Regions from separate parts of the Homo sapiens genome. Here regions 1 and 3 are each reported to be linked to region 2. The links are microRNA targets in miRTarBase. Many come from high-throughput screens and were not tested one by one. Region 2 holds a microRNA gene; each other region holds the end of a gene's coding sequence. Distances are from middle to middle.
Evidence for each region. The annotated mature microRNA hsa-miR-1247-3p reads CCCCGGGAACGUCGAGACUGGAGC and lies in region 2 at 1,760-1,783, opposite strand. An mRNA with a match to its seed (bases 2 to 7 or 8) in the 3' UTR can be bound and repressed. Matches are read on the target gene's strand: a 7mer-m8 pairs with bases 2 to 8, a 7mer-A1 pairs with bases 2 to 7 and ends in A, and an 8mer does both.

Region 1: miRTarBase lists CCDC127 as a target of hsa-miR-1247-3p. The part of its 3' UTR that is shown has no 7-base or 8-base seed match.
Region 3: the mRNA of FANCM is a reported target of hsa-miR-1247-3p. The part of its 3' UTR that is shown has no 7-base or 8-base seed match.

What each region holds. Positions count from the first base shown.
Region 1 is chr5:202,641-205,640 of GRCh38, forward strand. It overlaps CCDC127 (coiled-coil domain containing 127), which reads right to left. Exons shown (of 3, transcript NM_145265.3): 3 at 1-3,000. The coding sequence ends at 2,657. Among named protein-coding and RNA genes, the nearest start is that of LRRC14B, 13 kb to the left of the region's middle.
Region 2 is chr14:101,558,567-101,561,751 of GRCh38, forward strand. MIR1247 (microRNA 1247) reads right to left here and starts at 1,856; the gene lies at 1,721-1,856. DIO3 (iodothyronine deiodinase 3) reads left to right here and starts at 2,929. Exons shown (of 1, transcript NM_001362.4): 1 at 2,929-3,185. The coding sequence starts at 2,931. It overlaps DIO3OS (DIO3 opposite strand upstream RNA), which reads right to left and starts at 1,856. Exons shown (of 2, transcript NR_152588.1): 1 at 1,686-1,856.
Region 3 is chr14:45,199,461-45,202,460 of GRCh38, forward strand. FANCM (FA complementation group M) reads left to right here. Exons shown (of 23, transcript NM_020937.4): 23 at 410-1,430. The coding sequence ends at 548. Among named protein-coding and RNA genes, the nearest start is that of MIS18BP1, 52 kb to the right of the region's middle.

The sequences.
Region 1 (3,000 bases), not on the chromosome of region 2:
ACCAGCTTGAAGGCTCTGAACATATCTATCTCACTATAGAAGGAAGCTAGGCTGACAGCACACTGGACATTAGAAACAGGATGAGGATTAACAATTTGCCTCGAAAATCATTCACCTACAAAGCAGCTGACTGTGTTTTCTTCATTTAAAGACAAACGTGGAGTGGTTCACACAGGGACACCCAGCAGACCGGATTGCCGCAGGAATGGAGCCTGCACCGCTCTTTAGGCAAGGGTCTTGATGCATCAGGAAGTACAAACAACAACAGGAAGAGTTTTGTCCAGATTTACCGAAAAAATGACTTTTTAGGGGCCGGGTGCCGTGGCCCACACCTGTAATCCCAGTGCTGTGGGAGGCCGAGGTGGGGGCGGTGGATCACCTGAGGTCAGCAGTTCGAGACCAGCCTGGCCAACATGGTGAAACCCCGTCTCTACTAACAAAACAAAAATTAGCTGGGTGTGGTAGCGCACGCCTGTAATCCCAGCTACCCAGGAGGCTGAGGCAGGAGAATCGCTTGAACCCAGGAGGCGGAGGCTGTAGTGAGCTGAGATCACACCACTGCACTCCTGCCTGGGTGACAGAGATTCCCTCTCAAAAAAAATAAAAAATGAAAATAAAAGTGACTTTTTCTCAGATAAAGCGATGGTGGTAGAGCAGAGAGGCACGCTAGCAGCCACTGAAGAAGAGAAGCATCTGAGCACCCTTAGCCATCACACCACTGCACTCCTGCCTGGGTGAAGCATCTGAGCACCCTTAGCAGGGCGTGGGTGCCGAGAGCAGAGCATGGCAGGGGGCCCGTGTCTGTTGCAGGCAGCGCATGTTGGCTCTGAGCCCGCCTCCGCCGCGCTCAAGGGGTTCCACGGATTTCAAACAACGCATGCGTGTAAAGCGTGTACAGCTCAGGGTGGAACATGCACTCCATGAATAGTGGCTCTCATACTGCCACGTGGGCTCTATGAGCTTAGGATTTTTAACAGTTGCTCCTACTCCCGTACAGACGGGCAGGAGGGGAGAACATGGCCCTTGAAAGCAGATGGACAACCTGCTCCCGCTCCTGCCTGGCCACACACTATCAAATCACTGCACACAGGTTACTCGCGGTTCTGGAGAAAAGGTGCCCGGGCTCAGACTGGCTCCAACACTACTACCTGCGTGACCTCAGGCAGGTTAGCTCTTCCACATCTCCGTAAAGTGAGGTGCGTGGTGACGAATTCACACAGCAGGCCCAAGGCTGTGTCCTACCAGGGCCTGTGTGCAAGGCTGGCCCTTGACTGACATCTGGGAACTCGGATTCTGGGAGACTTCCCAGCACCATTAACTCCTACGCGTGGCTCTGTGACCACAGTACTTGTGCTCACGGCACAGACCACACCAAACCCACCCTCCTTCTGGACAAGTGGGGAATTCCCACACAGGCCAGGCAGGGGGTACCACATGACCAGCCCTTAGCAAAAGCCCCAGGTGCTGAGTCTCCAGTGAGCTTATTCTTAATAGTTAGGTGTGTCCTGTATGACTCCAGGGAGTGGATCCTGGGGTGTCCACACGTGGCTCCTCTGAGCGCCACCCACACACCCTCTCCCTTTGCTGATTCTGCTCTGTGCTGAGTCCAACCCTGTGCTGAGTCCTGTGAGATCTCCCAGCAGGTCACGCACCTGGGGGCTGGCCTTGGGGCACCTCCGCAAAGCGTAATAGTAATACTCACTTCACAGGATTCGACTGAGGATTCCATGAGTGAACAGGTATACAGGCTCAATTCCCAGTAGCTATGTGTGACATGGGGTGATAAGTGCCTGTCTACCTTGTTGGCTGTGGTAAACAATGAGATAATACATATAAAAATATTTTGTAAAGAGTGAAGAATTACACAAAAAGTGGCATTATTACTCATAAATGGCAAGTATTTTGAGTATATATCATTGCTAATAAGTATCTGCTTGCTGAATACAGACACAAGCCAAATTCCAAACACACATTAGGTAACAACTGGATACAACACACACACATTAGGTAACAACTGCATACAACACACACACATTAGGTAACAACTGCATACAACAAACACACATTAGGTAACAACTGCATACAACAAACACACATTAAGTAACAACTGGATACAAGAAACACTTGGTATTTCCCCTTTATGGAGTGAGAGAGATCTTTAAAATATAAACCCTTGATAATATAATATTACTACTTCCTATTACCTGTTATGCAGTTCTACACATTATCTGACAAATTCTTAATGTAATCTGGTGACAGAGAAAAATAATTTGAGGAGAAAGTATTTAGGGAGTGATGAAACAGACAGAAAATTACTTGTGGTAAGGACCAGTATTGTATTTGACTTTTTAAAAAACCATTTTTACCCTGGAGCTAAAATACGAGGTTATACTGTTCTGCTTAATACAATACTGGCAGCCTAAAAATGCTTCAAGAAACCATATCCCCAACAGCGGCAGAGCATCGGGAGGAGACCCTCTGTCTCTGAGGCTTCGGTGCACTTCTGCTCAGACGGTGGCGGGAGTGGAGGTCGCTGCTGAAGGGTGACGGTGTGGCCATGACACGGGCAGCACGGGAACGGAAGACGCCGGAGACCCAGAAGGCGCATGACTGCCTGGCCTCGAGTCACTAAAAGCAGTTTGATTTCACTCTTGTCTTACTTTTCTAGTATGGCTTCCTCTACTCTCTTAAACTTCTTCAGTTCGACAACGAGTTCCCAGTATTTGAGATAGAGCCACATGAGTCTGCCATTCTGGCGTTTGTTGGTGTTCCAGACATCACCACAGTATGTATCATGCTGAAATATGTCGGTGAGACCGGCTGCCATCTCTAGGTCAGCGGCGACGGGGTCGACGGACGCTCGCACCAGTAAGCTCTTCTCTATCTCCAGCCGCTTGCTGCGAGGAAGAAACAGACTGCAGTAGATATTCTGTCTTTCTGTGAGAACAGCTTCAAATTCTTTCAGCAAAAGCCTGGCTCTCCTTTGCCAGTTTTCTTCCC
Region 2 (3,185 bases):
GGAGTCAGTGAGCCAGGTTCTGTGTTCCAAAGGCCAGCATTGCCTGGACCTTGGGTCTGTCCTCACCTGCATAAGAGGCTGCAGGAGCCAAATGGGCCTTCCAGCCTTGTCCAATATTATGGAGTCCCGAGGTGTGGAGTGTATTCTGTGGGCCCAAGAAACAGCAACAGATCCCCAGAACAGATGACAGCCCTAAAGAAAGGCTGCTTTCCTGAGCATCCCTGGGGCTAGAAAGAGTGTGGATCAGGTGCTTCCTATTGGGCTGGGCCTGCAGAGGGGACAAGAGGGGCCAGTCTTACAGCCACCCAGACCATACTTTCCACACACATGCACATGCGCACACACACTTGCACACACACACACACACTTGCACACATATGCATGCACATGCCACCAGATCTCAGCCAGCACAGAAAGGCTCTCCCAGCCTTAGGTGGCTTATGCATTTTCTGAAACTAACTGTGGGAAAAGGGCTTGGGGAACCATCCCATGTGCCTGCACCAAATGCTGTGTGGGTGGGGCAGGACACAAGCCCTACACTGACACCTCCCAGAAATCAGGGAATCAGAGCTTGAGAGATTGTCCAGTAAAAGTTGGAACCCTCAACACCCCTTGACTCTGCCCAGGAGGAGCAACCTCAGAAGCCCCCCCAAACCTCCTCTCAGAGACCTGCCGAGTAGGAGGCTTCTCTCTCTACTCTCCTCCCCGCAAAAAAGAGGCCAGAAAAGAGGATGATTGGCTAACTCAGAGGTGCCCTGATGGAGGGGAGCAAACAAGGGGACTTCCAAGGAGAATTCCCTAGCCCACCTGAAAGACCCCTACCCAGAGTGGTGAGGGGCAGCTTAGGAGCACTGACGCAAGGGGGAGAGACCAGGCTGGCTTCCCTCTACGTAGTAAGTTCCTGGGGTGTGCGCCCCTGCCCCAGACAGCAGAGAAATCGCCTGACTGGGAGATGGAGAAGAGGGGCCACCTTCTCATGCCACCCCGCCGCCAATCCTCCAGGCACACTCGGGCGCTTGACCTGCTGAAGCCTGTAGCCTCAGGTCCAGTGAGGAGCTCACGGGACAGAGGGCCCTACCAGAGCCACGAAAACCGGAGGGGGGGACCTCCGCCCAAGGCAGGCGTCTCTGCGCGCCCGCTGGGGCCCTGGTCCTGCAGTTGGCTTCTCCCGACACGTTCCTTCGCTGCCGAAAGCGATTCGCCCGCGCTCTACCGAGCCCAGCCAGCTCCTACCTCGGCCCGGGCGGCGAGCGCTGTCTCCGTCCCGAGAAGAAGTTTCGCGGCTGGTCCCGGGGCGGCAGGCGCACGGGACGCTGGCGGCGGCGGCGGCTTCCGACTTGGGCTCAGACCCCGCCGCTCCAGACAAGTCCCCGCGACTGCGACAGTGTCTCGGGCAGTTCAGCTCCCCAGACGGGAGACAGACCCTCGCGACCTGGTTCAGGCCTTGCCCTGGGGGACACTGCAGTCCAAGGCGAAAGGAGACTTGCTCCCGGCCTCTGGGTCCCTAGGTCAAGGCACCTCCCCGCCCCGCCGCCCCTGAGCCCAAGTCGCCAACCCCGCGCCGCGCGCAGCGAGGGATCAGAAGGTCTCGGACGCCGCGGCAGGGCCGGCCAGGGCCCCACGAGTTAGGGAGTTGCCCCGCACCCCTAAACGCTCAGCACCCATTTACGGTTGAAAGTACGCACTTGACGCGTCCGGGCGCCTCCGCGGTGAGTCGCGCCGCCGCTCTCGGGGTCCGCGAAGGTGGCTCAGTTCGGGCGCTCCAGTCTCGACGTTCCCGGGGTAGAGAGCAACGTCCGGGGACGAACGGGACGGGTGCGCCCAGCGGCCGGGGCTGCGCTGGGCGAGGCAAGCGGCGAGAGGGGAGCGCTCCGGCGTTCAGGCAACAGCTACCCCTAGTGGGAGAGCCGCCCGGGGCCGGCGCCGCCCCGCGCCCGCTGCCCCGCGCCCCACGCCCGTGGCGCCCCGCGCCCGGGTCGGCTGGGGGCGCAGGGCCGGCGCCGCTTTCCCCAGCTCTCCGGTCTCCGGCGCCCGGCGGTAACCCGCCCGCGGGCTCTGCCCTCCGCACCTCTCAGCCCGGCCCCGGCGGCCGCTGACCCAGGAACCGCGGCGCCCCGCTGGAACGAGATGGGACGGGGCGGGCGCGGCCAGGGCGGCGCGGGCTGGGGCGGCGCGCGGCAGCCTCGGGCAGCGGCGGGGGGCGCGGAGCGCGGTGTGCGTGGCGGGGCGGTGCGGGGGGCGGCCGTGTGCGAGGCGCGAGTGTGAGCGCGCGCGGGAGGCGGGCGGGCGGGCTCCGGCAGGCGAGCGGCGCCCGCGGGCGAGCCAGGAAGGCGGCGGGAACGCAAAGTTGCCTCCTCGCTGGCCCGCGTCCTCGGTGGGGCGGGAGCCGGGGCCACCGAAGCGGCGGCCGCGGACCCGGCCTCCCGCGGCACCTGGGCAGCGGCCCCGCACGAGCGGCAGCGGCGTGGGCGGCGTTGGCGGCGGCGCGCGGGAAGCGAACCGGAGCTCCGGCGCGGCTCGGCGGCCGCCGGGGAGCTCGGCTCAGGTGCGCGGCGAGGGGGGCGCGGGCCGGAGCCAGGCGGCGGGGACCAGGGCGGCGCGCAGCGCTCGCGCCAGCTGGAGGACCTCCCCAGCGGACGCCCAGGTCCCTGGTCGGGCTCCCGGTCCCCAGCGGCAGCGGCTGCCGGAGTCCCCCGCCCCCGAGAGCTGGCTGCGGGGCCCGGGCCCGCCCCCACCGGCCCCAGGCCCGGCCGCTCCGCCCTCCGCCCGCCTGCGCCCGCCCTCAGCCCAAGATTTCTAGGGCATTGGCCGCGCTGCTGGGTGATCCCTCCGGGCTCAAGTTGCAAGGGGGCGGGCCGGGCCGGAGGTGGAGTCTCCCGCCAATTGAAGCCTCCGCTATAAATTGAACTCCCTGCACTGCTGAAGCCCAGATGCCTCGCCAGGCCACGTCGCGGTTGGTGGTCGGAGAGGGCGAGGGGTCCCAGGGGGCTTCGGGGCCTGCAGCCACCATGCTCCGCTCCCTGCTGCTTCACTCCTTGAGGCTCTGCGCCCAGACCGCCTCGTGCCTCGTGCTCTTCCCGCGCTTCCTCGGCACGGCCTTCATGCTCTGGCTTCTCGATTTCTTGTGTATCCGCAAGCATTTCCTGGGCCGCCGCCGCCGGGGGCAGCCCGAGCCCGAAGTGGAG
Region 3 (3,000 bases), 56 Mb from region 2:
TCACAGACTACTGCCTTCTCATTGTATCCTCACATGGCAGAAATAGAGCTAGCTAGCTCTTTGACCTCTTCTTAAAAGTGCACAAGGATATCCACCTTTATCAACTAATTCTCAAAGTTGCCACTTCCAAATACCATCACATTGGGATTACGGCTTCAACATATGAATTTTGGGCAACACAAAAACATTCAGTTCATTGAAGATGTTGAAATTGTTATTCTAGATAATTTTAAGGAAAGGAAACAAGTAGCTCTTTTATCCAAACTAATGTTCAAGACATATCAGCTGGGCGGATAATGCTTGAGATGATTTCCTTAAAGGCTACTGTGTTTGGTGTTCTTTAGGTAATATTAAATTTTATAAAAGCCAAAAGTCCTAGTGTAATGATTTTGTCTCATTTATTTTTCAGCTCACTTCAAGAAATCTCCATGTATGCACAAGTAACTCATCAGAAGGCTGAGGAGATCTATAGATATATTCACTATGTATTTGACATACAAATGTTACCAAATGATCTTAACCAAGATAGACTGAAATCTGATATATAATCAAGCTGCTCAAGATGGGGTTTTCAAAGACCTCTCACAATATTAAATGCACTTCAATAATCATTGCTGTTTTATGTTTATTTGTAAATAAGAGAATATTTTATTTAAATATTTTATATTGTATACATTTTTATTTATAGATTATAGAAATTATTAAAAAAGAAAAATCTGATGTTCAGTGATCATTTTGACTAGATTATAAAACTAATTTTTCTTATTAAATAAAACAAGGTTTATTAAAAGTGTTACTAAGGATAGTTTAAGAAAGTAAAAGCTAAGCTAGAGATATACTTTGGAATGTTTCCCAAAATTAAAGTTGTACTGTTGTGATAAATAGTAAAGTTGACATGTCTATGACTACAGCCAACTTGTCGATTTTCCCTATGTGTAGATAGTATACTTTTAAGTGTACTGATTCTAAATACATGTACTTGGTAAGGTGTGGGTGATGGGTGGGTTGTGAGATAAATGACCCAGTAACTAGGAAAGTAGAAAACTTAACTGAATGTTTATCTGACCAAAGGTGTGTCCCAGTTAAGTACTGTCAAATCTATTAATATGAACTCTGATATGGTTTGGCTGTGTCCCCAACCAAAATCTCATCTTGACTTGTAATCTGAATTATAATCCCAATATATTGGGGAGGGACCTCCTGGAACGTGATTAGCTCATGGGGGCGGTTCCCCCATGCTGTTCTAGTGATAGTTCTCAGAGGATCTGATGGTTTTATAAGCTTTTCCTCTGTTCACTCTGCAGTTCTCTTGCCTACTGCCATGTGGAAAAGGAAACGTTTGCTTCCCCTCCACCATGATTGTAAGTTCCCGAGGCCTCCCCAGCCATGCAGGACTGTGAGTCAATTAAACATCTTTTCCTTATAAATTACCCAGTCGGGTTATTTCTTCATAGCAGCGTGAGAATGGACTAATACAAACTCCCAGCTACATTACTCTTTTTTGTTGCTGAAATATATTCAAAATGGTATATTGGTTTGGACTTAGAAAGTTTCTTTTTAATATAAATTACTGAATGCAGGCCCATTATGTTGACCCTATTATATTTACCGTTTTGATCCATTCTGTTGTCTGTGATGGCATTAAGAAGGCTCTGCTTGGGGCCGGGCGCGGTGGCTCACGCCTGTAATCCCAGCACTTGGGGAGGCCGAGGGGGGCGGATCACGAAGTCAGGAGATCAAGAACATCCTGGCTAACACGGTGAAACCCCATCCCGTCTCTACTAAAAATATAAAAAAATTAGCCGGGCATGGTGGCAGACACCTGTAGTCCCAGCTACTCAGGAGGCTGAGGCAGGAGCATGGCGTGAACCCGGGAGGCGGAGCTTCCAGTGAGCTGAGATCGTGCCACTGCACTCCAGCCTGGGCGATAGAGCCAGACTCTATCTCAAAAACAAACAAAAACAAACACAAACCAAAAAAGAAGGCTTTTCTTGTATCTGCAATATATATGACATCTTTCTTCTAGTCAGTCTAGTACTAAAGCAGCCTTGAATTATGTGAGTCCTTTATTCTCGGCCTCATTTTTACCCCTATTACATTGTTGGGTAGTTGAACCAGCCTCACTGCAGAGCTCTCCTCACCTTAAATCTGGCGGGGACTTCAGAGCTCATGTAATTCAAATCACTTCTCTTTCCTTTCTTACCAAATGATAAAAGTGATGCCCAGAAACAAGTGACTTATTCAAGTTTAGACTGGCAAATCTAGAAGCAGAACTCACAAACTAGGTATCATTCTCTTTCACTCTATGGTGTTGATAAAAGGGGACAAAAAAGTTACTCTAATTGTTTAGCTCCTTTGAGATAGTATCAACTCTCAATTTGTATGAAAGCAGCTGACTTATGTATGCTGCTCAATAATTCTGTCAAAACCACAGAGAGGAAACACTAAGTTATTGCCTAGTGTGCAGTTATCAGTTTATTATAACTGGACTTTTTGAGTATTTCTCCTTTAGTAGTGAGCACAATGCTAAGCTGTGACAGGAGGAAAGGAGCCTCTTTGTGGTTCCACTGTGCTACATCTTCATGTATCTTGCTCCTGCCACATTGTCAGCAGGGCCTGTGGGTAGGGACATCTGGTGGTGCTTTGCCCCAGCTGCATGCCAGAATCATGCAGTCCCTCAACAACCTCACACAGAGATACCACCACCTGCTCAGACTCAGCTGTGTGTGCACCCGTCAGACAAAAAAAAGTACATAAATTAACATGGTGTTACAGACATAACCTAGAGGATTTCATTTATTTATGCTTGCTGTATGGAGAGCTCTATCCATATTTAGGCTTGCAATAGCCTCCTCCTATATCCTCATTGGTAGCCATTAACCATTCATTATCCATCTTATTATTTAAGTCCTTAAGGTCTTTTTTCTTTTCCACTTTTAAGTTTCCTTTGGGGGTTACTTACCTTAAACCTTATCATTAGTTCATCTTATGACCTGATAG